Regions from separate parts of the Homo sapiens genome. Here region 2 is linked to region 1. The links come from fine-mapping of genetic effects on gene expression. Tissue or cell type: neural progenitor cells. Region 1 holds a variant in brackets; the other region holds the start of a gene. All regions are shown on one strand. Distances are from middle to middle. Region 1 overlaps NOPCHAP1 (NOP protein chaperone 1). Region 2 holds the start of NOPCHAP1 (NOP protein chaperone 1).

Region 1 (3,020 bases):
AAAAAATGCACAACTATGTGGAAACTGAACAACCTGCTCCTGAATGACTACTGGGTAAATAACGAAGTTTAGGCAGAAATAAATAAATTATTTGAAACCAATGAGAACAAAGACACAACATACCAGAATCTCTGGGACACAGCTAAAGCAGTGTTTAGAGGGAAATTTATAGCACTAAATGCCCACAGGAGAAAGCGGGAAAGATCTAAAATCGATACTCTAACATCACAATTAAAAGAACCAGAGAAGCGAGAGCAAGCAAATTCAAAAGCTAGCAGAAGACAAGAAATAACTAAGATCAGAGCAGAACTGAAGGAGATAGAGACACAAAAAACCCTTCAAAAAATCCACGAATCCAGGAGCTGGTTTTTTGAGAAGATTAACAAAATAGATAGACCACAAGCCCAATTAATAAAGAAGAAAAGAGAGAAGAATCAAACAGACACAATAAAAAATGATAAAGGGGATATCATCACTGATCCCACAGAAATACAAACCACCATCAGAGAATACTATAAACAACTCTATACAAATAACTATAAACACCTCTAGAAAATCTAGAAGAAATGGATAAATTCCTGGACACATACACTCTCCCAAGATTAAACCAGGAAAACGTTGAATCCCTGAATAGACCAATAACAAGTTCTGAAATTGAGGCAGTAACTAATAGACTACTAACCAAAAAAAGCCCAGGACCTGAAGGATTCACAGCAGAATTCTATCAGAGATACAAAAAGGAGCTGGTACCATTCCTTCTGAAACTATTCCCAACAATAGAAAAAGAGGGACTCCTCCCTAATTCATTTTATGACACCAGCATCATCGTGATACCAAAACCTGGCAAAGACACAACAAAAAAAGAAAATTTCAAGCCAATATCCCTGATGAACATCAATGCAAAAATCCTCAATAAAATACCAGCAAACTGAATCCAGCAGCACATCAAAAAGCTTATCCACCACAATCAAGTCAGCTTCATCCCTGGGATGCAAGGCTGGTTCAACATACACAAATCAATAAACATAATCCATCACATAAACAGAACCAATGACAAAAAGCACATGATTATTTCAATAGATACAGAAAAGGCCTTTGATAAAATTCAACACCCCTTCATGCTAAAAACTCTCAATAAACTAGGTACTGATGGAACATATTTCAAAACAATAGGAGCTTTTTATGACAAACCCACAGCCAATATCATACTGAACGGGCAAAAGCTGGAAGCATTCCCTTTGAAAACCAGCACAAAACAAGGATGCCCTCTCTCACCACTCCTATTCAACATAGTATTGGAAGTTCTGGTCAGGGCAAGCAGGCAAGAGAAAGAAATAAAGGGTATAAAAATAGGAAGAGAGGAAGTCAAATTGTCCCTGTTTGCAGATGACATGATATTTAGAAAACCCCATCATCTTAGCCCAAAAACTCCTTAAGCTGATAAGCAATTTCAGCAAAAGTCTCAGGATACAAAATCAATGTGCAAAAAATCACAAGCATTCCTATATACCAATAACAGAGAGCCAAATCATGAGTGAACTACCATTCACAATTGCTACAAAGATAATAAAATACCTAGGAATCCAACTTACTAGGGATGTGAAGGACCTCTTCAAGGAGAACTTGCTCAAAGAAATCAGAGAGGACACAAACAAATGGAAAAACATTCCATGCTCATGGATAGGAAGAATCAATATCGTGAAAATGGCCATACTGCCTAAAGTAATTTATAGATTCAATGCTATCCCCATCAAGCTACCA[T/C]TGACTTTCTTCACAGAATTAGAAAAAACTACTTTAAATTTCATATGAAACCCAAAAAGAGCCCATATAGCCAAGACAATCCTAAGCAAAAAGAACAAAGCTGGAGGAATCACGCTACCTGACTTCAAACTATACTACAAGGCTATAGTAACCAAAACAGCACAGTACTGGCACCAAAAGAGATATACAGGCCAACAGAACAGAACAGAGGCCTCAGAAATAATACCACACATCTACAACCATCTGATCTTTGAAAAACTTGACAAAAACAAGCAATGGAGAAAAGATTCCCTATTTAATAAATGGTGTTGGGTAAACTGGCTAGCCATATGCAGAAAACTGAAACTGGACCCCTTTCTTACACCTTATACAAAAATTAACTCACGATGGATTAAAGACTTAAATGTAAGATCTAAAACCATAAAAACCCTAGAAGAAAACCTAGGCAATACCATTTAGGACACAGACATTGGCAGAGACTTCATGACTAAACACCAAAAGCAATGTCAACAAAAGCTAAAATAGACAAATGGGATCTAATTAAACTAAAGAGCTTCTGCACAGCAAAATAAACTATCATCAGAGTGAACCAGCAACCTATAGAATGGGAGAAAGTTTTTGCAATGTATCCATCTGACAAAGAGCTAATATCCATAATCTACAAAGAACTTAAACAAATTTACGAGAAAAAAACAACCCCATCAAAAAGTGGGCGAAGGATACGAACAGACACTTCTCAAAAGAAGACATTTATGCGGCCAACAAACATGAAAAAAGCTCATCATCACTGGTTATTAGAGAAATGCAAATCAAAACCACAATGAGTTACCAGTTAGAATGGCGATCATTAAAAAGTCAGGAAACAACAGATGCTGGAGGGGATGTGGAGAAACAGGAACACTTTTCACTGTTGGTGGGATTGTAAATTAGTTCAACCATTGTGGAAGACAGTGTGGCAATTCCTCAAGGATCTAGAACTAGAAATACCATTTAACCCAGCAATCCCATTACTGGGTATATATCCAAAGGATTATAAATCATTCTACTATAAAGACACATGTATGTTTACTGCAGCACTGCTCACAATAGCAAAGACTTGGAACCAACCCAAATGCCCATCAGTGATAGACTAGATAAAGAAAATGTGGCATATGTACACCATGGAATACTATGTAGCCATAAAAAAGGATGAGTTCATGTCCTTTGCAGGGACAGGGATGAAGCAGGAAACCATCATTCTCAGCAAACTAACACAGGAA
Region 2 (2,500 bases), 23 kb after region 1:
ATCCATTGAATGCCTACTACTTAAGGCCTACTGGATTCGTGATCAGAGCACAGAGTCTGGAGCCAGACTACTTGAATTCAAGTCCCAGTTTTGCTACTTTCTAGCCACATGATCTCCAGAAGGTAAATTACCTGTATGATAAATCATGTCTCAGGTTCCTCAACTATAAAACAGAGATAACAGATTTTCTGCAAAGGGTTGTTGTGAGGATTAGATGAGTTAGTTTCTGGGGCATACATAGTAAGGACTACATAAGCTTTGGTTATCATTATTATACTTCCTTCGGAATCTCTGGGTTCTCACAAAACCTTTTCTTCAAGCTAGTATTTACTGACAACATGCCCAAGCCTTTTTAGGCATTCTCCTCCTCACAAAAATTCTACAGGCATTACTACTATCACCATTTTCCAAATGCAAAAACTGAGGCTTAGGGAATGAAAATAACTCTAAGTCCCACCAGTTAATTACTAGTGGAGCTGGGATTCGAACTCGTGCTTTTAAATTCTACCTATAGTGTCTGAAATGCTGTGTGGATTTCCTGGATGCATGTCTCCCTCTACAAGACAGCAGCACTAAGGGGTGGTCTGTGTGGGTGTGAAAGAGGTAGGGACTGTTAGCATAATATTACTCCGCTTCCCCCTATCAGCCAACTGCTCCGACCCAGGCAGCCAAACCAAAAGCCCTCCCTTCCCCAAAAGAACTCGAGAGCTTCCCAGCTTCCAGGGCAGGGCAGATGCCTGGCAGCGGCGCCTGGCAGGGTGGGCGCTCACTACCTTGCAGAATATAAGAACCACTAGCTGGGGAAACCATTCCGGGCCCGCAGCCGGGTGCCCGCCCCAAAGCCCCCACCCCTGCCGCGGGCAGGGCACGCCGGAGCCCCGCAGCAGTCCCCGGGGCTCCCCTCGAGGGTACGGAGCCCGGGCAGGGAGCCACCGGCCGGCTCCCAAACTGCACCGGCCGCGCCTCCTCTGCCGCACGTGTGCGGCCCATGCCGCCGTCACCCGTCCGTCACCTCCGCGGCCGTCGCTTCCCGCCGTCAGCAGCTCCTTGGACACTGGGACTCCTGAGGAATCCCGGGTGGGCGACGAACAACTCGGGCTAGCCTTGGGCTTGCCATGGACCTCCATGCTTCCCTCAAGCCTGCACTCTCAGGCCCGGATGCAGGAAAAAGGCTCGGGTAAGGGGGCGGGGAGAGGGCCGCGATTGGAGGAAACTGCGGTGGGCGGAGTAAGGAGCGGAGAGAGAGGCGGGGCGAGCGTGGTGCAGCCTGGAGGCTGCGCGGGAGCAGGGGCCATTCCTACTCCTGGGAAAAAGAAAGGTTCAGACACTGTCATAGGAAAAAACAGCGGGCAAGGCTCGATTTCGCCAAATTCGGGCATAAAGAGCATAACATTAGGCTTCCCTCCTCTTTATCCTTTTTTATTAAATTTTTTTTTAATTGGTGAAAAAACACGTAACAAAATCTACCATCTTAACCATTTTTAGTTGTACAATTCAGTGGTGGCAGACCTCTAGATCATTTTCATCTTGCAAAACTGAAACCTTATACCCATTTACCCCTACTCCAGTCCCTTGGTAACCACCATTCTACTTTCTTCTTTGTTTCTTTCTTTTTGAAACAGCCTTGCTCTGTCGCCCAGGCTGGTGCCTCAGCCTCCCAAGTAGCTAAGATTACAGGTGCACACTACCACGCCCGGCTAATTTTTGTATTTTTGTATAGAGACGGGTTTTCACCATGTTGGCCGGGCTGATCTTGATTTCCTGACCTCGGGAGATCCACCCACCTTGGCCTCCCAAAGTGCTGGGATTACAGGCGTGAGCCATCATGCCCAGCTACCATCGTTCTACTTTCTGTTACTATGAGCTTGACTACTTCAGATACATTATGTAGGTGGAATCATACAGTACTTGCCTTTTTGTTACTAATTTCACTTAAAATAATACCCTCAAGGTTTAGACATGTTGTAGCACATAACAGGATTCTCTTCTTTTTTAAGCCTGAATAATATGCCATTGTATGTATATACCACATTTTCTTACCATTGATCTCTCAACAGGCGTGCTGGTTGCTTCCACCTCGTGGTCATTGTGAACGCTGCTGCAATGAACATGGTGGTACAAATATCTCTTAGAGACCCTGCTTTTCAATGCTTTGGGATACATACCCAGACATGGGATTACTGGATAATAGGGTAATTCTACTTTTTAGGTTTTTGTGAAGCCTCCGTATAGTTTTTCATAGTGGCTGCACCATTTTACATTCCCACAGTGCACAAGAGTTCCAATTTCTCCACATCCTTGTCAATATTTCCTTTTTCTGTTTGGTTGCTTCTTTCTTTTTGACAGTGAGCATCCCAGTGAGTGTGAAGTGATATCTTGAAGTTTTGGTTTGCATTTCTCTAATGATTTAGTGATGCTGAACACCTTTTCATGGGCTTGTTGGCCATTTATATATCTTCTTTGGAGAAATGACTATTCAACTCCTTTACCCATTTTTTAA

The links. PIP is the estimated chance that this variant, and not a neighbour inherited with it, causes the effect.
Region 2: it holds the start of NOPCHAP1, and the variant in region 1 is the best candidate, but not a certain one, in a credible set for the expression of NOPCHAP1 in neural progenitor cells (Aygun 2021, PIP 0.60).

What each region holds. Positions count from the first base shown.
Region 1 is chr12:105,007,769-105,010,788 of GRCh38, reverse strand. It overlaps NOPCHAP1 (NOP protein chaperone 1), which reads right to left. Exons shown (of 4, transcript NM_152318.3): 4 at 1-3,020. Among named protein-coding and RNA genes, the nearest start is that of NOPCHAP1, 23 kb to the right of the region's middle. The variant T/C (reference allele first, on the strand shown) is at 1,762.
Region 2 is chr12:104,984,980-104,987,479 of GRCh38, reverse strand. It overlaps NOPCHAP1 (NOP protein chaperone 1), which reads right to left and starts at 1,164. Exons shown (of 4, transcript NM_152318.3): 1 at 1,013-1,164. The coding sequence starts at 1,127. It overlaps LOC105369952 (a long non-coding RNA gene), which reads left to right and starts at 1,110. Exons shown (of 2, transcript XR_007063436.1): 1 at 1,110-1,177. RefSeq lists a silencer at 685-934 and enhancers at 487-997, 998-1,510.